Linked DNA regions of Homo sapiens. The protein of the gene in region 6 purifies or fractionates together with the protein of the main gene of each other region. This does not show direct contact. Each region holds a gene or a part of one and is shown on either strand. Other genes may lie near its edges. The genes, in order: ZNF212, RFC5, RNF20, MCM6, VANGL2, TRAIP and MCMBP.

The links.
Region 1: the proteins of TRAIP (region 6) and ZNF212 purify together in Homo sapiens (affinity purification with western blotting, with the first as the bait; one study listed by BioGRID). This does not show direct contact.
Region 2: the proteins of TRAIP (region 6) and RFC5 purify together in Homo sapiens (affinity purification with mass spectrometry, with the first as the bait; one large-scale study listed by BioGRID). This does not show direct contact.
Region 3: the proteins of TRAIP (region 6) and RNF20 purify together in Homo sapiens (affinity purification with western blotting; one study listed by BioGRID). This does not show direct contact.
Region 4: the proteins of TRAIP (region 6) and MCM6 purify together in Homo sapiens (affinity purification with mass spectrometry, with the first as the bait; one large-scale study listed by BioGRID). This does not show direct contact.
Region 5: the proteins of TRAIP (region 6) and VANGL2 purify together in Homo sapiens (affinity purification with western blotting, with the first as the bait; one study listed by BioGRID). This does not show direct contact.
Region 7: the proteins of TRAIP (region 6) and MCMBP purify together in Homo sapiens (affinity purification with mass spectrometry, with the first as the bait; one large-scale study listed by BioGRID). This does not show direct contact.

Annotation. Positions count from the first base shown.
Region 1 is NC_000007.14:149,252,879-149,256,106, forward strand, and holds the end of ZNF212 (zinc finger protein 212), read left to right. Parts: intron 1-680; coding exon 681-1,537; 3' UTR 1,538-2,728; downstream 2,729-3,228.
Region 2 is NC_000012.12:118,026,703-118,029,718, forward strand, and holds part of RFC5 (replication factor C subunit 5), read left to right. Parts: intron 1-186; coding exon 187-316; intron 317-1,250; coding exon 1,251-1,328; intron 1,329-3,016. UniProt on the Homo sapiens protein: Subunit of the replication factor C (RFC) complex which acts during elongation of primed DNA templates by DNA polymerases delta and epsilon, and is necessary for ATP-dependent loading of proliferating cell nuclear antigen (PCNA) onto primed DNA.
Region 3 is NC_000009.12:101,540,353-101,543,852, forward strand, and holds part of RNF20 (E3 ubiquitin-protein ligase BRE1A), read left to right. Parts: coding exon 1-18; intron 19-137; coding exon 138-285; intron 286-440; coding exon 441-623; intron 624-3,500. UniProt on the Homo sapiens protein: Component of the RNF20/40 E3 ubiquitin-protein ligase complex that mediates monoubiquitination of 'Lys-120' of histone H2B (H2BK120ub1).
Region 4 is NC_000002.12:135,852,444-135,855,943, reverse strand, and holds part of MCM6 (DNA replication licensing factor MCM6), read left to right. Parts: intron 1-3,028; coding exon 3,029-3,157; intron 3,158-3,500. UniProt on the Homo sapiens protein: Acts as a component of the MCM2-7 complex (MCM complex) which is the replicative helicase essential for 'once per cell cycle' DNA replication initiation and elongation in eukaryotic cells.
Region 5 is NC_000001.11:160,403,564-160,407,063, reverse strand, and holds part of VANGL2 (vang-like protein 2), read right to left. Parts: intron 3,161-3,500; exon of another isoform or gene 2,672-3,160; intron 937-2,671; exon of another isoform or gene 739-936; intron 1-738. UniProt on the Homo sapiens protein: Involved in the control of early morphogenesis and patterning of both axial midline structures and the development of neural plate. Plays a role in the regulation of planar cell polarity, particularly in the orientation of stereociliary bundles in the cochlea.
Region 6 is NC_000003.12:49,850,065-49,853,564, reverse strand, and holds part of TRAIP (E3 ubiquitin-protein ligase TRAIP), read left to right. Parts: intron 1-3,500. UniProt on the Homo sapiens protein: E3 ubiquitin ligase required to protect genome stability in response to replication stress.
Region 7 is NC_000010.11:119,862,844-119,866,343, reverse strand, and holds part of MCMBP (mini-chromosome maintenance complex-binding protein), read left to right. Parts: intron 1-3,500. UniProt on the Homo sapiens protein: Associated component of the MCM complex that acts as a regulator of DNA replication.

The DNA.
Region 1 (3,228 bases), on a different chromosome or scaffold from region 6:
GCTGACTTGGTGACCTCATCTGGCATCTGCTTGTTCTGGACTCCTTTATGATTGTCGTTAGTTCAGCTGTTACATATGCCTCAACTCCTACCACCCTGTGGGGTCTTTAAGACTAACGGCCACATCAATCATTATTCTTCATGCCCTACAGAATAGAGTACCGTACGAGGCGGTAGTCAAAACCTGCTGGAGATTGAGCGTAGGTATGTCAGAGCTTCAGGAGGGAAGGCAGTGCAGGAAAAGCACTTGTCAGTAGGTAATTTGGGAGGTTATGGAGGAAGAACAGAGCTGGACATGAATTCTTAAGCTGTAGGTTTAGTTTGTCTTTAATCATTCAAATTTGTTATTTTAACACTCTTAATTGAGTATAGTTGTTACAGTGTATTCTGTCATTTTTCACAGGGATTAAATATAAATTTGTAGACAAGCTTGGAGAACTATCATTTACAGTATTGTTTTATAAGAGTAATACATTTATATTTCCAATCAACATTGGAAAAACTGTACATGAATATAGTTTTATAGAAGTCTTGGAACCTAGCCAGTGTCATCCTCCTCCACGTTATCCTAATTCACTTATTCCTGGGGTGCTTCTGAAATTCACAGATGTTTGTTTGGTCCTGAAGAAACCAAAGGTACTAGAATGTGATCTTTTTTGTTGGTCTTCTTCCACTTTGCAGCAGGTGGGGTCATGATCAAACAGGAGCTACAGTATACACAGGAAGGCCCTGCGGATCTTCCTGGAGAGTTCTCATGCATTGCTGAAGAGCAGGCTTTCCTGAGCCCAGAGCAGACCGAACTCTGGGGTGGTCAGGGCAGTTCTGTCCTCTTGGAAACAGGTCCTGGGGACTCTACTCTAGAGGAGCCTGTTGGTAGTAGAGTTCCTAGCAGCAGCAGAACTGTGGGCTGCCCGAAGCAGAAATCTCATAGGCAGGTACAGCTGGACCAGGAATGTGGGCAGGGCCTGAAGCTGAAAAAGGACACTTCCCGCCCCTACGAATGTTCTGAGTGTGAGATCACCTTCCGCTATAAGCAGCAGCTGGCCACACATCTGCGCAGCCACTCTGGGTGGGGGTCTTGTACACCTGAGGAGCCAGAGGAGAGCCTTAGGCCCAGGCCACGGCTGAAACCACAGACCAAAAAGGCCAAGCTGCATCAGTGTGATGTGTGCCTGAGGAGCTTCAGCTGCAAGGTGAGCCTGGTGACCCATCAGCGTTGCCACCTGCAGGAGGGGCCCAGTGCCGGCCAGCATGTCCAAGAGAGGTTCTCACCCAACAGCCTGGTTGCCCTGCCTGGCCACATCCCTTGGAGGAAAAGCCGGAGTTCCCTCATCTGTGGTTACTGTGGCAAGAGCTTCAGTCACCCATCTGACTTGGTGCGGCACCAGCGCATCCACACGGGTGAGCGGCCCTACAGCTGCACTGAGTGTGAGAAGAGCTTTGTCCAGAAGCAGCACCTCCTGCAGCACCAGAAGATCCACCAGCGGGAGCGGGGTGGGCTGGCCCTGGAGCCCGGAAGGCCCAATGGCCTGCTTTAAGGGTGCAGCCCCTCGCCCGTCTGGGGGATGGAGGGGGGTGGCATTGGTTCCCCCGAAGAGACACTGCAGTCAGGGACTGAGTTCTTCCTGAGGGCAGTTGTTTGTGATTGCCTTCCCTTGTCCCAGTACCAAGCCAAGCCCAAAGGCTGTCCTGAAAACCCTGTGGAAGAAGAGTCCAGGCCAGGTCTTCATCCTGCTGCCAAGTTTGCTGTTTCTTGGCACCTTCAGGTCTCTGGTTTTCTCATTCATGCCAATGCTTGTGGGCTGGGGTTGGCGTTCTGACCCCACAGGGACTGGTGGCTGGTTCCAGGGCTCGTCCCGGCATTTCATGTCTTCCCACGGGGTTGAGTCGGGCCATAGGGGTGAGCAGCTGCCTGGAAGAGTTCTGGGAAGTATAACCCTCCATTTTTTCTTGTTTTATAATCTCTTTGTTTAATAATAAGTAGAAGAAATAATTTAAATGAACTGCTTAGCCCTGCTCTGAAGAACCTTTTTTGGAATTAGATTTTAGTTGATTTTTTAAAGAATACAGCCCAACACTTGTTTTTTACATTTTAAGAGTTGTAGAAGTTGTTCCTAACTTGGGGACTGGACCTACCCTCTAGGAGGGAGTTGTTAATGGGGCTCTTTTAGCCCACTGATGCTTACTTAGGCCGGAGAGCAGGGGACACGGTGCTAGGTTCCCTCGTGCAGTGCCTGGTGCTCTCAAATTGTCTCAAAAGGACCAAGAGGAAAAGAGTCGGAGGGGTAGACCCTGCAGCCCTGTTGAGAAGAAAGATTCCAGTGAAGTTGCTGATGGTATGGCTGTGGTCTGGGACTTGCGGTGTCTCGGCATACCCCTCTCCTCTTCCCACCTCCTCCTGGCTATGTTCTGCAGCCTCCCAGAGTAGAAAACTACTTTGTTACTTAAGGTTGTTCACCTTGTACCAGTGGTTATTTGAGTTTGTTCCTATTACACCAATCCTTACTTGAGGTGGTTCGGATTACAGTTTCCAAATGCATTCTGGGATTGCCTATTCCAGAGAGGGTACAGAAAAAGCACACAGATGGCTTGTCTCAGGAGTGTTGAATGTGTGCCCCGCTGCTGTCTGGGGGGATGGGAGTGGGCTCTGGGGTCATATGTGAACATCCCCTTGGATGATTTGCGGTTGCTTAGAATAAAACTTGCTACTAGCAAAAGAAAAAAAAAAAGTTCATACTGGATGTTTTTCTCCGTTTGTCAAGAACACTCTCCTGGGGCCAAGGTGGAGGAGAGGCACCTGACCTGGAGTGATGACAGGGAAGGACTGATGGCACAGCCTAACCTGCACTTTTACTTAAACCTAGGACAGAAGACAAGATGTGGCATGGGTGAAAATTTTCAGGGGACTGTACTTATGATGGTGGAGAGCTGGAGACAGTCTGGGTGATGGCTATTGGGAGGTAGAAAGAGTAGGTGAAATGTGGGTACCCCAGGGAGTGCCAGGTAGCTGTTACGAGCATTGGCTTAGATATATGCGTAGCCATCTGGATCCATCTTAAACACAATGCCGAGGGGAAAAGGTAAGAAATTGAGATCTATAATGTAACACCATTTATATAAATTAAAAATGCATGTACACAAAACATTTTGTAAGAACACTTGGGACCAAAGGAGACCCGTTAAAAGACATTACAGTTTTCCACGGGGAGAGCGAGCAAATAAGTAGAAG
Region 2 (3,016 bases), on a different chromosome or scaffold from region 6:
GGCTGTGGCATCCTCTGATGAGGTGACTCTTCCGGTATTGAATATGTGGGTTCCCACTGCCTTGTGCCCATAGAACTTTGCTGCTCACCTGCATTGCTGCCTTGGCAATTTCTTCTTGGCTCCCTGCAGCTTGGTGGCAGCTGTGACAGCCACTGTGATCTCCCCTTTCCCCCTCTGTCTACACAGAGCACCAATATGGCCTTTGGGAAGGTGACAGAGGAGACTGTCTACACCTGCACCGGGCACCCGCTCAAGTCAGACATTGCCAACATCCTGGACTGGATGTTGAATCAAGATTTCACCACAGCCTACAGAAGTATCCTTTCTCATGACCTCCTGGCCACCGAGACCTGAAGGTGGCCCCAGGAGTTCAGGTTGCAGCCAGCACCCACACCTTGCTGGCAAAGGATGACTGGCTGCAGGCGACTCTGGTCAGCTTGTTGTGGGAGTGAGATGTCTGTAGGTGGAGTGGGTACTTGTCTTTAGCACTCCAGAGTTCTTCTTGGAGGGCTCTGACCTTCAAGTCAGGGTAAGGCTTGAAGCAGCTTCACTCACAGATGGGAGAAAAGCTTAGGCCTTGGCATTGAAGATGCAGGAATTTTCAAGTGGTCATGATAGTGATAGCTCTTGTGCTGTGAAATGAAAGGCTAGGAATGGTGACACAAAGCCTTTTTGGAAATGCATTTGGGGCTGGGTGTGGTGGCTCATGCCTATAATCCCAGCACTTTTGGAGGCTGAGGCGGTAGATCACTTGAGGTCAGGAGTTCAAGACCAGCCTGGCCAACATGGCGAAACCCCGTCTCTACTAAAAATACAAAAATTAGCCGGGCGTGGTGGTGGGTGCCTGTAGTTCCAGCTACTCGGGAGGCTGAGGCATGAGAATTGCTTGAACCCGGGAGGCAGAGGTTGCAGTGAGCCGAGGTCATGCCACTGTACTCTAGCCTGGGTGACAGAGGGAGATTCCATCTTAAAAAAAAAAAAAAAGAAAGAAAGAAAAAGAAAACGCAGTTGGCTTTATTCTCTACTAGAAGGAGTTACAACTCTATCTTTCAGAAAGCCCTTACTGAAGATGAAACAAAGAAAAATAAAGAATTGGAGTCCAACACGTGCAGCTTCAAGTTGAAAGAGAAACAGTTGTGTTGGGATTAAAAGCCTTACTTTAAAAAGTCTCTTGCCCGGGTTTGGATTCAAAATTCTCTGCAGTATGTTTGTTCTGGAACTTGTTCCCTTTGCCTTAACTGCTCCTCTAGATATTACAGAGTTGAAAACTCTGAAGGGGTTGGCACTGCATGATATCCTGACAGAGATACACTTGTTTGTGCATAGAGGTAACTTACATTATCCCCCAGCTGAGAAGCTGTGGAGAAGGTAGCCTGCTTTGGGGTTAAGGATGGTTAGGACAGGAGGCTTCATTCTTGAAGCAAAGAAACTAATGAATTGTAAATCAGACCCTTCTTGTTAGCAGTTCTGTCTTGCCACTGTTTAAAATTTTGTTCCAGAGCTGGGTACGGTGGCTCAAGCCTGTAATCCTAGCACTTTGGGAGGCCAAAGCAGGCAGATCACCTGAGGTCAGGAGTTGAAGACCAGCCTGGGCAACATGGTGAAACCCCGTCTCTACTAAAAATACAAAAAATTAGCCTGGCATGGTGGCGCACGCCTGTAATCCCAGCTACGTGGGAGGCTGAGGTGGGAGAATCATTTGAACCTGGGAGGTGGAGGTTGCAGTGAGCCAAGATTTGCCACTGCACTCCAGCCTGGGCGACAGAGCTAGAGTTTGTCTCAAAAAAAAAAACAAAACAAAACACAAAAAACGTGTTCCATAAACCCTCTTTTAATATCTAGAACTGCTGGGGAAAGTGAAAACTCCTGGAGGCTAACTTTATTTCCTCTAGGGGTTTATATTTTATAGCAGTAAGTAGTATATATTAATTCACATTTCTAAAAAAAAAAAAAAAGTCTGTCTATCTATCTGTCTATCTAGATATATATTCCCAGAAAAGAAAGAGAAGATATGTAAACCATGTAAACCAAAGCAGGCTTAAGGAAAACATCTTAAGTTCCACACTTGCCTGTACCTTCTACACAGAGAATTGGTTCTCAACCTTGGCAGCAGATAGGGGCACTCCAGACAAATTAAGTCAGCTTCTCGGAGGACAACCAGGCATCCGTATTCTCTAAGCTCCCCAGGTGACTTGTGTAGGCTTTCGGAGAAGCTCTTCCTTCCACAGTGGCCAACTGCAAGATGGAGACTTAACCGGGTCAATGAATGTTGGTTCTGCCCAGGCCTTCACAGGCCTCTTCCTGGCTGGCCCATGCCATGCCTTCTGCCCAAGGTATGGTTGGCTCAGGCCCAGCTCTGCACCTTGATTGTGGAAGCTGAGCATAAACCAACTTTAAAAAATCAGTTGTTTGTGCTTGGTTTTTAAATGGGGACAGGATCGGTATAGTGGCTGACGCCTGTAATCCCAACACTTTGGGAAGTCAAAATGGGTGGATCACTTGAGCCCAGGAGTTTGAGACCAGCCTGGGCAACACGGTGAAACCGCATCTCTACAAAAAGTACAAAACAGCCAGGCAAGGTGGCGCACACCTGTAGCCCCAGTTACTCAAGGGTCTTGAGGTGGAAGATCCCTCAAGCCCAAGAGGTCAAGGCTGCAGTGAGTCATGATCACGCCATGCCATGGCACTCCAGCCTGGGCAAGACAGTGAGACCCCGTCTCAAAATAAAGTAAAATATAAAATAAAAACAGCAAGTGGGAACTCAGCATTCAAGTTAACTTGTAGAGCTACCCAGCTGCTAAGAGCAGTGTGATCTTTGGTGCTCTTAGGATCACTTTGGTATCTGCTCATTTTCCTTTTTGTCTACCCTATAAAGCACAAAATCGAGTGGGTAAAAAGTATGAAACCAGCACTGTTTCTACTTTCTTAGAGGTCTGGTATCTAGTGAGCAGGCTGAGGCCTCAGGACTAGTTCAGTGTTAAGGATTTCATGTTGAAACTCATTTGTCCTCTGTGGG
Region 3 (3,500 bases), on a different chromosome or scaffold from region 6:
AACCGATACTGGAGTCAGGTAGCTAACTTGTTTATTTGTTCAGATTTTTATTTGACCAATTTAGTTCTCCTTACTGTTCTCTTCATTTCCAAAGTTGTGTCCTTTGTTTCTTCATAATTGTACCTACCCTTCTCCAGTTTGATGAAAACATCCGTATCATCCTTAAACGTTATGATCTGGAGCAGGGCTTGGGAGACCTACTCACAGAACGAAAAGCCCTTGTTGTGCCTGAACCAGAACCAGACTCTGATAGCAATCAGGAGCGTAAAGATGACCGAGAGAGAGGCAAGTGTTCGTGATGGATTCTATCACTGCATGCTATCTGGGTTTTTAAAGTAGAGCTCTGCTTTGAGGCTTTCCATTTGAGGGAAAAAAAATGGATTTTGTTATTTCCAGTTTATAATTTTGGGGGGCTTCTTTTTTTCCCCCTGTGTCCTCAGGGGAAGGGCAAGAGCCAGCTTTCTCTTTCCTTGCTACTTTGGCCAGCAGTTCCAGTGAAGAGATGGAGTCTCAGCTGCAGGAACGTGTGGAGTCTTCCCGCCGAGCCGTGTCCCAGATTGTGACTGTTTATGATAAATTGCAAGAAAAAGTGGAGCTCTTATCCCGGAAGCTAAACAGTGGAGGTGAGGCAAGACCCTGGAGGCCGGGAGTAGTGGAGGAGGAATAAGAATTCATTTTTGCATGCTAATTTGTAGTTTGCAAGCTTACATATTTATTTTTATTTATTTATTATTTACTTTTTAAGAGATAAGGTTTCACTGTGTCACCCAGGCTGGAACACAGTGGCACCATCATAGCCCATTGAATCCTCGAACTCAAGCAATCTTTCTGCCTCAGCTTCCGAATAGCTAGGACTATAGGCACGTACTACCACACCTGGCTAATATTTTAACCTTTTTGTAGAGAGGAAGTCTTGCTATGTTGCCCAGGCTGGTCTCAAACTTGGCCTCAAGAGATCCTCTCTTCTGGCCTCCCAAAGTGTTAGGATTACAGGCATGAGCCACTGTGCCTGGACTATATATTTTAATTAAATTTTTAGAAATTCTAACCTTCAGTGTTACTGGTAATGTCTTCATTATGGCATATTAATCTTTTATCAGTGCTTCTCATTTTGAGCCACATGACAGTCCTTTAATAAGCTGAGGAAAGAGTTTATCAGCTCTATACTGATATACTCTATTAATGACAGTTTTGTAAATAGCAGAATTAACTTTATTATTTAATAAACAGCTCTAATATCTGGATCTGTTTATCGTGTATGTAGGCTATTGATTTATAGTGATAATACTTTATTTTAAATAACAACTATATTATTTAATTATTAGTTACAGAATTTTGACTTGAAAAAGTTAATTTTTACTTAACTTATTTTTCATTATCGCTAATGTTTTTAAAAAGAGTTGGTGCAGGTTTTAGAGTTGACAGATGATCTGTATGGTTAAAAGGATTATTAGAAAATATTCTATGGATGAAAGAGTATTTGAAATAAAATAATTATTTGGGATAATTGTGTTACTCAGAGTTAATGCAAAAATTTAAATTTGTACAGTAAAGTATTTGTGTAGCTAGGTTACATCTTTAGTCATTTGTGGCATAAATACCTTGCTCAAATGCAAAAAAAATGCCTTGATTTCATGTTTTCAATAATAATCATGGTCTAGTTGTAATATCTTAATTTCCCTGCTTATCATTAAGATGTTTAACCTTTCATTTCTGAAGGAAATAAGTTGAATGTAATGGAGGTTGAACCATTGGATGAGCATATAAGAATTGTATTATTCTGTAATTTTGCTTTTAAGGGTAATTGGGCTAAGTTGTCAACAGAATTAAGCAGCTTGTAGAAGGCCTGTGAAAATTTGGTCACGGGTTTCTTTTGCTTTTCCATTAGATTATGCATTTCTGTATTTTATTATAAGGAAAACAGATACTTGTTTAAAAATATACAAGTCAGAAATACAAATAAGTAGACTACAAAAGTTTCCCCATTCTCATTTCTCAAAAGATAACCATTCTAAACAATGTGTTTTATGTCCTCTCAGACTTTTGTACTTTTGTATTAATATCTTACATCTACTTGCATGTCCCCAGCTAAACTGTGTCTTGGTTCAGTAGTTTGGCTCACTCTTCTTTGTTTCTCTAGTTTCTAGCACTGCATCTGGCATCTAGCAGATGTTTAGTCAATGGGGAATGAATGGATGTGAACCTCCCTGTCACCTAATATAAAATAATGGTGCTTTGTGTGTGCACATATGCTTCTTTCTCCTTGGGCTCTAATTGAATAGTTAGAAGGTATTGTTAAATTTTAGTAATATGGTAATTAATATGCCATGTGCATAGACTATGTTAAACTTGATTTCATAAATGAATATCAAGTGAAACAATTGTTTTATTTAAAAAGGGAATAAAATGAGTAGTATATCAAACGACTTTAAAATTACTATTTAATGGCATGCATTTTAAGGTCGGGTTTAAGTTAAAAAGTAGAAACATTACAAATAGCCATGCCATTATTTGTAACACAAAAGGCAATTGCCATTGGTAAGCTGAACTTTCTAAGAGATAAAGATGTATAAAGTATGAATTATAGCATCAGTTGTAACTTGTTTGAAAGTTCATCCCCCTGACTTAGACTGAAAATTGACATTCCTCAAATTCCTAGGACATCATCAATACAGTAGTTTCTACTTCCCCATTCCCTGTGGAATTTCTACCACGCCATTCCTCAATAACACTATACAGTCTTTTATATTTAGGGTAATTCATTATTTGGAGGTTTGGAGTTGTGTTGTGTTTTACAAAATCCCCTATGATATGATAGGCCTTCTAGAGTAAGGTAAGGCCTTCTAGAGCAAGTATAGGCCTTATAGAGTAAGGTCTATAAATTCATCTAACCCTGCCAGAGCGGCACTGTCTAACCTGCCACGGCAGTACTGTCTAACCGTGCCAGGGCGGCACTGTCTAACCCTTCCAGGGCGGCACTGTCTAACCCTTCCAGGGCGGCACTGTCTAACCCTGCCAGGGCGGCACTGTCTAACCTGCCAGAGCGGCACTGTCTAACCTGCCAGAGCGGCACTGTCTAACTCTGCCAGGGCGGCACTGTCTAACCTGCCAAGGCAGCACTGTCTAACCCTGCCAGGGTGGCACTGTCTAACCCTGCCACTGCAGTACTGTCCAACCCTGCCAGAGCGGAACTGTCTAACCTGCCAGGGCGGCACTGTCTAACCTGCCAGAGCGGCACTGTCTAACCCTGCCAGGGCGGCACTGTCTAACCTGCCAGGGCAGTACTGTCTGTTTGTTTGGTCTTTGATTCAAAAGAATTGCATTTATGGGCTTGTTTATAAATTCACTAAACATTTATTGAATTTTATTGTATTCTAGCCCTGTCCTCAGTGCTTAGGATATTGAGAGGACTAAAATTCAGTCTCTACTTCTTAACTCAGGTTATGAATCAGAATAACCTTGGGAGTTTTCTGAGCATATTCTTATTTTTGGCTTTGCCC
Region 4 (3,500 bases), on a different chromosome or scaffold from region 6:
TGTAGATTTACTTGGATTCTGATATGTTAGTTTAATTATTAGAGTTATGTGTACTTAAATATTTAATAATGCACTTCAGATGCCCACAGAACTATAAAATGACAGTTTGTAGGAACTAATATTTTAGGCTGTACTTTTTAAATCATTCAGCATTGAGGTTCTACATTTTATTGGGTACAGTGCACAGCTCTTTGTTACAGTGGAACTTTAAATATTATCTAAATAAAAGTAGCCTTCCATTTTGTGAGTGTTTGGAGGGCTTGGATTTTTATTTATTTATTTTTTAAAGACAAAGTCTTACTCTGTCACCCAGGCAGTGCCACAGTCATAGCTCACTGCAGCCTCAATCTCCTGGGTTCCAGTGATCCTCCTGCCTCAGCCTCCCAAGTAGCTGAGACTACAGCTCTGTACCACCATGCCTGGTTAATTTTTTCATCCTTTTGTAGCAACGGCAACAAGTTCAAGACCCGTGTTGGTCTTGAACTCTTGGCCTCAAACCACCTTACCACCTCAGCCTCCTGAATAGCTAAGATTGTAGGCCTGCACCATCACACCTGGTTTGGTTTGGTTTGGTTTGGTTTGGTTCACTTTTTTTCCCTTCACAAGAGAGACATATTTAATTACCAGATAATTGAGTTGTCTGATTTTCATACATTTATGTTTGTTCATGATTCATTAAAGTAGCTTTAGTAGCAGATCAAGTTATAAACCTTTAAAAGATCAATTTATAAACCTTTAAAACATTCAAGATTTTTTTAAAACTGTTTTCTTTAGTTTTGTTTTGTTTTGTGACGGAGTCTCACTCTGTTGCCCAGACTGGACTGCAGTGGCACAATCTTGGCTCACTGCAACCTCCGCCTCCTAGGTTCAAGTGATTCTTCTGCCTCAGCCTCCTGAGTAGCTGGGATTATAGGCGTGTGCCACCACGCCTGGCTAATTTTGTGTATTTTTACTAGAGACAGGGTTTCACCATGTTGGCCAGGCTGGTCTCAAACACCTGACCTCAGTTGATCCACCGACCTCAGCCTCCCAAAGTGTTGGGATTACAGGTGTGAGCCACCGCGCCCGGCTTGTTTTGTTTTTGAGACAGGGTCCCACTCTTTCCTGCAGTGGCGTGATCATGGCTCACTGCAGCCTCAGCCTCCTGGGCTAACACAATCCTCCCACCTCAGCCTCCCGAGTAGCTGGGACCACACATGTACACCATTGTGTCTGGCTGACTTTTGAGTTTTTTGTAGAAACAGGATTTTGCCATGTTGCCCAGGCTGGCTGCAAACTCCTGAGCTCAACCAGTCTGCCCACCTCAGCTTCCCAAAGTGTTGGGATTATAGGCATGTGCCACCATACCTGGCCAAAAAGCCTTTTCTTTTTCTTTTTCTTTTTCTTTTTCTCTTTTTTTTTTTTTTTTTTTTTTGAGATGGAGTCTCGCTCTGTTACCCAGGCTGGAGTGCAGTGCTGCCGTCTCACCTCACTGCAACCTCCGCCTCTCAGGTTCAAGTAATTCTCCTGCCTCAGCCTCCTGAGTAGCTGGGATCACAGGCGTGTGCCACCATGCCCGGCTAATTTTTGTATTTTTAGTAGAGACGGGGTTTCACTTTATTGGCCAGGCTGGTCTCAAACTCCTGACCTCAGGTGATCCCGTCTTGGCCTCCCAACGTGCTGAGGTTACAGGCGTGAGCCACCGGGCCCAGCCTGTTTTATTTTAGTTATTTATTTTGAGACAGGGTCTGGCTGTATTGCCCAGGCTGGAGTGCAGTGGCATGATCTCAGTTCACTGCAACCTCTGCCTCCTGGGCTCAAGCCAGCCTCCCACCTCAGCCTCCTGAGCAGCTGGAACTACAGGTGCAGGCCCCCATGCCCAGCTAACTTTTGTATTTTTTGTAGAGACCGAGTTTTGCCGTGTTGCCTGGACTGGTCTTGAACTCCTGAGCTCAAGCTATCCACCAGCCTTGGCCTCTCAAAGTGCTAGGATTACAGGCATGAGCCACTGTGTTCCGCCCAGACAACTTCTTAATTAGAAATAATTTCAAGCTTACAGAAAAGTTGCAAGAAATGGAATAGTGCATAGAACACCCATATACCCTTTACGTGATTCACATAATAACATTTTACCCTGTTTGCTTTATTGCTTACTGTCTGTATATATCTGCACACTTTTTTCCTGAACCATTTGAGAGCAAGTTGCATATTTTGGGGTCTTTTTTTTTTTTCCAGTATTCTGGGATGAATATCTTCAAAATTTAGTGGCTAAGAGCACAGTCTCTGAAGCTAGACTATTCAAATCCTGGCTCCACTACTTAACTGTGACCTTGGATAAATTACTTAACCTTCCTAGGCCTCAATTTGCCCATGTATAAAATGGGGATAATATCATTTACCTAATAAAATTTTTGTGAGGATTGCATAAGTTAATTCTTCTAAGACCTGCCTAAGAGAACAGTGTCTCATACACTGAGGGCCCTATAAATGTTAGTTCTGCTATTTTTGTTGTTTTGTTTTTGAGATAAGGCTTACTCTGTTGCCCAGGCTGGAGTGCAGTGGTGCAATCATGGCTTCACTGCCCCTTCAACCTCCTGGGCTCAAGTGATCCTCCTGCCTCAGCCACCTGAGTAGCTGGGATTACACATGTGCACCACCATGCCCAGCTAGTTTTTTTGTAGAGACAGGGAGGGTCTCAGTTTGTCGCCCTGACTGGTCTCAAACTCTTGACCTCAAGCTCTTCTCTCACATCAGTCTCCCAAAGTGTTGGGATTACAAGTGTGAGCCACTGCACTTTACCCTACTATTGTTTTTAAAGCCAATCAATTCCTTCAGGTATAGTTTTAGAGTGGGGCAATGGTATACATTTAAACGTTTGATTTTAAATCCACCTGTTCCCAAACTTTCATCAGAAACTTGGTACCCATTAATACTTCTTTAAGTGGTATATTAGAGCTTGTTTTTGGCGATAAATCATTTCTTATTGCCTGGGATAGTCTGGAGAAGATATTGCTGTGACTATCAAAGTGATTTTTTTGTTTTGAATTAGGTTACAGATTATGCCATTGCCAGGCGCATAGTAGATTTGCATTCAAGAATTGAGGAATCAATTGATCGTGTCTATTCCCTCGATGATATCAGAAGATATCTTCTCTTTGCAAGACAGTTTAAACCCAAGGTAACCTACCCTTTTGTACTGGGATAAGGTATAATGGGTATATTAAAGTGGAATTTAAGTAAGTGTGTTATATGGAAATTAACTGAACCTGTCATCTACCTTAGTTCCTAAATTTTACAACTTTTTTTTTTTTTCTGGAACAGCAATTTGTTTTTTCAGAGAGGGCTGAGAAAGGGAACTGTAAAAAAAATTCTGAATAATTCCATTATTTGTTTGGTGGTAATAAAAAGATTTGTATGGGAGAAGAGTTTTGGATAACTGGATAATCTAGAACATTCTTTTATTTCAAACATTACTAAGAACGTTAAAATTGTTTATGCGCCTAAATCAATAGTTGAATCTT
Region 5 (3,500 bases), on a different chromosome or scaffold from region 6:
CTAAACCCTACTTACCCTAAAAAACCAGACCCCCTGGGCCGGGCGTGGTGGCTCACGCCTGTGATCCCAGCACTTAGGGAGGCCGAGGCAGGTAGATCACCTGAGGTCAGGAGTTCCAGACCAGCCTGACCAACATGGTGAAACCCCGCCTCTCCAAAAAATGCAAAATTAGCCAGGCATGGTGGTGCATGCCTGTAATCCCAGCTATTCGGGAGGCTGAGGCAGGAGAATCACTCGAACCAGGGAGGCAGAGGTTGTAGTGAGCCAAGATCGCGCCATTGCACTCCAGCCTAGTCAACGAGCGAAACGGTTTCAAAAAAAAAAAAACCAGAACCCCCTCCCTAGACCCACAAACAAACACACCCTCTCTCTCTGACCAGGCTGAGGGAGCCAAGAACACTCTGGTGAAAACAGGAGTCTGAAGGACATTGTTAGGGGCTGTGAGAAAACCCTACAGACAATAAGGACCAGGCTCCTCCCATTCACAAACAAGACCCCACGGGCCATGGTGGCCGGAGCCTACAGTCACTCCTTTACCCCAACCCCCATCCAAAATCATGGCCCAGCAAGGAGAAAGAGACCCACCCCAGGAGAGGTTTCTGCCCAGATGCTGGCCCCGCCCCAGGCTTATGACACCAAGGTGCTCCTCCTGGAGATGAGATCGTTCTCTGACTCCCACCCTCAAGGGTAGGCTTCTCTACTCCTCAGGCTGACACTGGACTCATGTTTGCTTTTCAGAAAACAGGGGAATTACTCAAGTGCAAGATTAAAGGCAATAATGAGCAATCAGACCGAACTGGAATGACAGTAGGGGAAGGTGAAGAGACTTTGGGAAAAGGAAGAGCACTGAAGTCAGACCTGGCACAGCCTTTTACGAGCTATGTAATCTCAGGTGAGTCGCTCCCCTTTTCCAAACTTCAGTTTCCTTATCTATAAAATGGCAATAATAGTGCCTACTTCAGAAGGTTAAGAGTTTTCAGCAAAATAATGTATGCAGAATATTACAGATTCTGGCACACAATAGATGCTTAAAAAAATGTTAGTTCCCACCTTTTCTCCTTTAGTGGGTCCACAGCGAATCCCCTCCACTTCCTGCTCCCATAACCTCACTGTAAGGAGAAACACCCCAAAATAAGATGGAACCACCTCTAGGTGCAGGGTTGTCCCTGTTCTAAATTAGACCACATCCAGGTACTGCCTGAGAGAGCAACCAACATGCCTCTTCCTCCTCTCTGCTTCTTTCTTCAGAGGCCCTTGGATCCCCCACCTTTCCTCCTCTCCTTCCTCCTTCCTCACTTACAGTAAAGCAGACCTGGGTTCCAATCACCTCCCACTCTCCTCTAGGCTCTAAGCCCAGCTGTGTGTGGAGCGGCAGGGGAAGGAGGCCCCAAGCCTCCCACCCTACCCAGCCCCCAGCTTCATCCCACTCTCCCCTCTCCCTGCCCCACCCTGATTACCAGGATATCCTCAGGTCTGCTGATTCCAAGCCTGCTTCTCTCAAACCAGTTCCCAGCTGTTATGTCTATAATTACCAATCTTGCCAGGGGCATCCGACAAAGCACAGCAAAACCTCATTTCCAAAGGGCCCCACCATAAAGGGCCTCTGCCTCCTACTCTGTACCAAGCAGGGTAGAGACAAGGAATGCAAACATTCTCCCTGGCCCACCACAGTTCTATCCAGACTACAACAGAGAAGGTGAGAGAGGGCTGCCCAAGCCACATCACCAAGAGACAGGATAAAGAAGGGGAGGGCCGCCGTAGGGTAGAATGTGAGTAGGACTTAGTCCCAGGCCTTTCCTTCACCTCTGCTGCCAAAATCTCATCATGCACAGGGTTACCCACCTGTGGAAGGTAAAAGGGAAAATTTCAGGTCAATTCAGAGAGAGGGGAAGCTGATGTCAAGTGAACAGGGAGATGGCTCCCCACAAGGATGAGGGTTGATGCATACAGGAGTGAGCTGCCCAGGAAAGAGGAGGAAAGAGCAAGTTTTAAAAGTCCCATCCCCAGCCCAGACCCTGAGAAGAGGCAATAATACCCTAGCCTCTCTTCTCCCCTAATACCTCCAACTCTACCAAGCCCATAGCACAAGCAGGAAAGGGATGATTAACTTTGTTTTATAGACAGAGAAACTGAGGCCAAATCCCCACTTCATACTGCAAGGTACAGGACTACCAAATACCCTGTGTGCCTTCTTGCTCACGCTCAGCCTCCACCAGGAGTGCCATCCTAAGACCCTTCCTGTTGGCCTAACTCATCCTTTAACCAGGTAAAGTCTGTCCACACAAGGGAATAATATTCAGCTATAAAAGGGAATGAAGTACTAATACATGCTACATGCTACCGTGTGGATTAACCTGGAAAACATTATGTTAAGCGAAGGAAGCCAGATTCAAAAGGTCATGCATTCTATCATTCCATTTGTATGAAATATCCAGAATAGGTACATCCATAGAGACAGGATGCAAATTGGTGGTTGCCAGGGGCTGGGGTAAGGGGAAATGGCGACAATTGTGTAATGGGTATGGGTTTTGTTTCGGGATGGTGCAAATGTTTGGGGACTAGACAGAGGTGGTTGTTGCACAGCACTGTGAATGTACTAAATGCCACTGTTCACTTTAAAATGGTTTATTTCCTATTATGTGAATTTCACCTTAATTTTTTTAAAATCCAGCTAACAGGGCATCTCCTGCAGGAACCTTCCCTGGCACCTCACCCCAGGGCCAAGCACTCTTCCTCTATGCTCCAGTGGCCTCCTGAACACACCTCCACACAGCACTCACTGGGCTGCAGTGAATCAACATGTTTTCACATGTCTCCCCTGGGAAAACATCTTATTTGCCCCTCCATCCCCTGTGCTTCACACTGTGCCTGGCAGATAGGAGAGAGTGCCTAATGTGGTCGGCCAAAGGAAGATCAGAACCAAAGCCTAGTTCTCCTATCCCGACTCCGACCTCTCTCCCTTAATGATGATTATCCCTCAGAATCCGAACCATCCAGCTAACATTTACTATGTGCCAGGAACTGTGCAACGTGCTTTCTCTATTATTTCATTTAATCCTCATAACCCCAAGAAGTAGGGCCTATTATTAATTCCATTTTACAGGTGAGGCTTCAAAAAGTTACCAGTTTTGTCTGATGTCACGGAATTAGACAGTGGCAAAGCCAGAATTTAAAAGCAAACCAGGGAAGAAAGCCACTTGGTGGGGGACCAGGGATTCCTTGTGGAAGGGCTCAGTCTAGGCTTGGAGGATGTGCCTTAAGACACCTAAGAGGCTGGGGAATGGGGTTTATTACTTGCCCAGATCACACCACTGTTAAGTACTAATTCCAACCAACTCTGACTCCTTTCTCTGGCCTCACAATGTGATGAACACTTGAGGGAAGGAGAAGACTGGAGTTCCCTAAAACTCAGAGGGGATCAGATCTCTTCCTTTTCCCTGCCAAAGCTTCTGTTAGTCAAGTTCCCTCCCCATTAACTGGAAGGACCTGGAAACCAGATG
Region 6 (3,500 bases):
CTATCTTGTCTAATTTAAAGTCCATTTTATCTGCTATTAGTATAGCCACTTCAGCTGTCTTTTGGTGACTGCATGGTATATCTTTTTTCATCTGTTTTATTTTATTTTATTTTATTATTGTTTTTAGAGACAAGGTCTCGCTATGTTAGCCAGGCTGGTCTCAAACTCCTGGCCTAAAGCAATCCTCCTGCCTTGGCCTTCCAAAGTGCTGGGAATACAGGTGTGAGCCACCACACTCGGCCCTTATCCAACTTCTAGCTTCCGTTGTAGCTATTGAAGTCAGATTTTAGTTTATCAGTTACTCCTTTAAGCATACTTTGGAACTTTATCCTCAGACTCTCATTACCTTTAGAATTTTCTCTGATTTTGGCTTTCTGCAGTTTTGGTATAGTGTATCCAATATGAATTTCTTTTTACCTTTTTCTTTTCTTTTTTTTTTTTTTGAGACAGAGTCTTGCTCTGTTGCCCAGGCTGGAGCACAGTGGGACAATCTCAACTCACTGCAACCTCCACCTCCCTGGTTCAAGCAATTCTCCTGCCTCAGCCTCCCGAGTAGCTGGGACTAAAGGCACGTGTCATCATGCCCGGCTAAATTTTGTACTTGTAGCAGAGACAGGGTTTCACCATGTTGGCCAGGCTGGTCTCGAACTCCTGACCTCAGGTGATCTTCCCACCTTGGTCTCCCAAAGTGCCGGGATTACAGCCATGAGCCATTGTGCCTGGCCGAATTTCTTTTTACAAATTCTGCTCGGGATTCATTAGATTTCTTTAACGTGTAGAGCAATTTCTTTCTTTCTTTCTTTTTTTTTTGAGACGGAGTCTCGCTGTGTCACCCAGGCTGGAGTGCAGTGGCACGATCTTGGCTCACTGCAAGCTCTGCCTCCCGGGTTCACGCCATTCTCCTGCCTCAGCCTCCCGAGTAGCTGGGACTACAGGCGCCTGCCACCATGCCCAGCTAATTTTTTGTATTTTTAGTAGAGATGGGGTTTCACTGTGTTAGTCAGGATGGTCTTGATCTCCTGACCTCATGATCTGCCTGCCTCGGCCTCCCAAAGTGCTGGGATTACAGGCGTGAGCCACCGCGCCTGGCCGTGTGGAGCAATTTCTTTAATCAGTTCTGGAAAATTATCAGCCATTATCTCTTCATATATTGCCTCTATTCCATTAACTTTTTTATCCTGTGTTATTATTTATTTTTGAGGTAGAGTCTCGCTCTGTCACCCAGGCTGGAGTGCAATGGTCCGATCTCGGCTCACTGCAACCTCCACCTCCTGGGTTCAAGCAATTCTCCTGCGTCAACCTCCCGAGTAGCTGGGATTACAGGCGCTCGCCACCGTGCCTGGCTAATTTTTGTATTTTTAGTAGAGACGGGGTTTCACCATGTTGGCCAGGCTGGTCTTGAACTCCTGACCTCGTGATCTGCCCGCCTCGGCCTCCCAAAGTGCTGGGATTACAGGCGTGAGCCACTGCACCTGGCCTACCTAAAGTCTTTGTGGGCATTTCTTCTGGTTTGTTTTCATAGTGCTTTTTTTTCTTGTGTACCTGTTTACTTAAAAAAATGTTTTTTTGGCTGGGCGCGGTGGCTCACAACTGTAATCCCAGCACTTTGGGAGGCCGAGGCTGGTGGATCACGAGGTCAGGAGATCGAGACCATCCTGGCTAACATGGTGAAACCCCGTCTTTACTAAAAATACAAAAAAATTAGCCGGGCATGGTGGCGGGCGCCTCTAGTCCCAGCTACTTGGAAGGCTGAGGCAGGAGAATCGCTTGAACTCAGGAGGTGGAGGTTGCAGTGAGCCGAGATTGCACCACTGCACTCCCGCCTGGGTGACAGAGCGAGACTCAGTCTTAAAAAAAAAAAAAAGTGTTTTTTTGGCTAGGCATGATGGCTCACCCCTTTAATCCCAGCACTTTGGGAGGTGGCTGGATTGCTTGAGCCCAGGGGTCCAAGACCAGTCTGGGCAACACAGTGACACCCCATCTCTACAAAAAAGTGAAAAAAATATAAATTACCTGGGCATGATGGCCTGTGCCTGCAGTCCCAACTACTTGCAAGGCTGAGGCAGGAGGATCGCTTGAGCCTGGGAGGTTGAGGCTGCAGTGACTCATGATTGTGCTGCTGCACTCCAGCCTGGATGACAGAGTGAGACCCCATTTCAAAAAAAGAACATTTTAAAATTGAAGTATAATATAGTTCAGAAAAGTACACATATTCTAAGTATATGGCTTACAGAATGTTTACAAATTGAACATATCTATGCAGCCAGAATTCAGATCAAGAAACAGGGTATGGCTGGGCGTGTTGATTCACGCCTGTGATCCCAGCACTTTGGGAGGCTGAGGTAGGCAGATTGCTTGAGCCCAGAAGTTCTAGAACAGCCTGAGCAACATGATGAAATCTCTACTAAAAACACAGAAAATTAGCCGAGCATAGTGGCATGTGCCTGTGGTCCCAGCTACCCAGGATGCTGAGGTGATCATCACCTGAGCCTGGGAGGTAGAGTCAGCTGTGAGCCATGATTGCTTTACTGCATTCCAGCCTGGGTGACAGAGTGAGACCCTGTCTCGAAAGTCCCCCCACCAAAAAAAAAAAAGAAAACAGGAAAACGCAGGCTATTGGCCGGGCATGGTGGCTCATGCCTGTAATCCCAGCATTTTGGGAGTCCGAGGCGGGTGGATCAGGAGTTTGAGAGCAGCCTGGCCAACATGGTGAAACCCTGTCTCTACTAAAAAAATATAAAAATGAGCTGGGCATGGTGGCGTGCACCCGTAACCCCAGCTACTCGGGAGGCTGAGGCAGGAGAATTGCTTGAACCTGGGAGGTGGAGGTTGCAGTGAGCCGAGATCGTGCCACTGAACTCCAGCCTGGCTGACAGAGCAAGACTCTGTCTCAAAAAAAAAAAAAAAAAAAAAATGCAGACTATTATCAGCTCTAGAAACCTTCTAGAAACCTCCTTATATGCTCTTCCAACCCCTACCAACACCTCCCTCCACCTCCCCATATTAAGATAGCTACTGTCTTGACTTTGAGAGCATAGATGAATTTTGCCTACTTTTTTTTTTTTTGAGACAGAGTCTCACTATGTCCCTCACGCTGGAGTGCAGTGGCGTGATCTCGGCTCACTGCAACCTCCACCTCCCAGGTTCAAACGATTCTTCTGCCTTAGTCTCCCAAGTAGCTGGGATTACAGGCGTGCGCCACCACACCCGGCTAATTTTTCTATTTTTAGTAGAGACGGGGTTTCACCATGTTGGTCAGGCTGGTCTCAAACTTCTGACCTGATGATCCACCCGCCTCGACCTCCCAAAGTGCTGGGATTACAGACGTGAGCCACTGGGCCTGGCCTGCCTACTTTTAAACTGTGTAAATAGAATCATACAAAATATAACTTTTTGTATCTGGCTTCTCTTCCTCAGTGTTATGTTTTTGTGATTTATTCATAATATTGTTCTTAGCTGTAGACTCATTTATTCTTGCTGTGTAGTATTCCACTGCGCCT
Region 7 (3,500 bases), on a different chromosome or scaffold from region 6:
ACCCCTATCATTTTCATCACTCCAAAAAGAAACCCCATACCTTTAGTAGTCTCTCCCATTTCTTCTGTCTTCCATCTCTGGCAACAACTATACTTCTGCCCATGGATTTACCTATTCTGGACGTTTCGTGTAGGTGGAATTATACAACATGTGGCCTTTGAGGTCTGGCTTCTTTTCATTTACCATGATATTTTCATGGTTCATCCATGTCATAGTATGCATCAGTACTGCATTCCTTTTTTTTTTTTTTTTAAGAGATAGAGCCTGGCTCTGTCGTCCAGGCTGGAATGCTGTGTGGCAAGATCATGGTTCACCGCAGCCTTGAACTTCCAGTCTCAAGTGATCCTGCAGCCTCAGCTTCCTGAGTAGCTGGGACTACAGGCATGTATTACCTGTATTACCACACCCAGCTAATTTTTAAATCATTTTTTGTAGATTTGGGGTCTCACTATGTTGCCCAGGCTACACTCAAACTCCTGGCCTCAAGTGACCCTCCCGCCTCGGCCTCCCAAAGTGCTGGGATTACAGATGTGAGCCACTGTACCCAGTCTGCATTCCTTTTTATGGCTGAAAATAACATTCCATTGTATGTCTATACTGCATTTTGTTTATCCATATATTTGCTGATGGACACTTAGGTTATTTCCTGGCTGTTATAAATACTGCTACTATAAACATTCATGTACAAGTTTTTGTGTGAATGTAAGCTTTTTGGTTCTTTCCCAGATATACCTAGGGATGGAATTGCAAGGTCATATGATAATTTTATATTTAACTTTTTGAGGAATTGCCAAACTTTTCCACAGTGGCTGCACCATTTTACTTCCCAGGTTCAAGCAATTCTCCTGCCTCAGCCTCCCAAGTAGCTGGGATTACAGGTACCACCAGCAAGCCCAGCTAACTTTTGTATTTTTAGTAGAGATGAGGTTTCACCATGTTGGCCAGGCTGGTCTCAAACTACTGATCTCAGGTAATCTGCCTGCCTTGGCCTCCCTAAGTGCTGGGATTACGGGCATAAGCCACTACGCCTGGCCTAAAATGTTTTTAAGAAAGGTTGTGTGAGAAGAGAACAAGAGGCACATTATATAATGTTAAAACAGTCAGTTCACCAAGAAGACCTAACTATATATGCACCAAGCAACAGAGCTTCAAAATGTATGATGCAAAAACCAGCAGAAATAAAAGAAGAAATAGGCAAATCTGCAATTGTAGTTAGATATTTTACTACTCCTCTCTCAGTACTTGACAGAATAGTGGGTAGAAAATCAAAAAGAATACTGAACAACACAAAACTACACAACACTGTCAACCAAGTAGATCTAATTGACATTTGTTTACCTAATGACAGCAGAATACACATTCTTTTCAAGTGCACATGTAAATTCACCAAGATAAACCACATTCTGGGTCATAAACCAAATAGTAAACTTTATATATAAGAAGAACACTTCTAAACAATCCATGGATTAAAAACTCTCAAAGGAAAGCTTTGAATATTGTGAACTAAACCAAAATGAAAACTCAACATACCAAAATTTGTGGGATACAGCCAAAGACATGCTTAGATGCATTAGCTGCCTTAATTAGAAGAGAAGGTCTCAAGTGAATAATTTAAGCTTCCACCTATGAAACTAGAAATGAAGAGCAAAATAAACCCAAATTAAACAGAAGAAAGAAATAATAGAGAACAAAAATCCATGAAATAGAAAACAGAAAAAAAAGAAAAAATCAGTGAAACTCAAAGCTCTTTAAAAAAAAAATCAATAAAATTGTAAACCTCTAGCCATACTGGCAAAGGAAAAAAAAAAAGGAAAACAAATTACCAATAGTAGAAAAGAAAAAAAGGAAGACAAATTACCAATATTAGAAAAGAAAGAGGAGATAACCACCGTAGACTGTACAGGCATGAAAAGGATAATACAAACAGCTCTACAGATAGAAATTCATCAACTTAGATGAAATGGACCAGTTCCTCAAAAACCACTGTATTAGCTTTCTATTTCTCCTGTAATAAATTACAAATGTAGTGACTTTAAAACAAAAGGTTTTTATTTACAGTCCTGGAGACAGAAGTCTGACATGGGTCTTACTGGGATAAAATCAAATTGTTGACAGGACTTGCATTCCATTGTGGAGGCTTTAGGAGAGAATCTGTTCCTTTTCTTTTCCTGCATCTAGAGTCTGCCCACATTTCTTGGCTTGTGGCCCCCTTCCGTTTTCAAAGACAACAAGTCGAGTTGTTCTCACATCTTACTCTAACTTCCTCTTTTGCCACATCCTTCCACATTTAAGGACCGTTGTGATTACATTGAACCCACCCAGATTGTTTTTTTTTTTAAGTTCAACTGATTATTAACCTTAATTCCATCTGCTACCTTAATTCCTATGTAACATATCTTTACAAGTTCTGGGGATTAGAACATCAGTATCTTGGTTGGGTGGGAGGGGGTCATTATTCTGCTGATCACAGCCACAAACTATCCAAACTCACCCAAGTAGAATAATATTTCACCTTTTACGTCTGGCTTATCTCACTTAGCATAATGTTTTCAAGGTTTATTCCTGTGTCTTCGTTGCTTTTTTTTTTTTTTTTTTTTTTTTTTTTTTTTTTTTTTGAGTCTGAGCCTCACTCTGTCTCCCAGGCTGGAGTGCAGTGGTGCGATCTCAGCTCACTGAAACCTCCGCCTCCTGGGTTCAAGCAATTCTCCTGTCTCACCCTCCCGAGTAGCTGGGATTACAGGCGTGTGCCACCACGCCCGGCTAATTTTTGTATTTTTAGTAGAGACGGGGGTTTGCCATGTTGGCCAGGCTGGTCTTGAACTCCTGACAGGTGATCCGCCCGCCTCGGCCTCCCAAAGTGCTGGGATTACAGGCGTGAGCCACCCCGCCTGGCCCTCGCTGCATTTTAATAAAGATACAAAAGCTAATTCAAATGGAAAAAGGATATTCTTTTCATCAAAGACATGAACAATTTAACATTTACATGGAAAAATAAAATCCTCAACCTTTACCTCATATTTTATATAAAATTAACTCAAAATGGATCATACATCTGAGTATAAAACCTGAAACTATAAAACTTTTAGAAGAAAACAGATCTTTGTGACCTGGGGTTTGGCAATGAGTTCTTAAGACATGACACCGAAGGCACAGTGCGTAAAACAAAAATTTGATAAATTGGGCTTCATCAAAATTAAAAACCTTTGTTCTGTAAAAAAAAATTCTATTAGGAGCATGAAAAGACAAGCTATACACTGGGAGAATATATTTGAAAATCCGGTATCAGAAAAAGAACTTGAATCCAGAATATATAAGAAAACACAGCAGTAATTTAAAAACTCAATTTTAAAAGGGGCAAAAGATTTAAGTAGGCTTAAATAGACATTTCACCAGATAGGATACAAGGATGGCAAATATCCCCCTGAGAAGAGTTCAGCATTGTTAGCCATTAGGGAAATGCAAATTTAAGCCATGATATTGCATATTAGAACAGCTAAAAT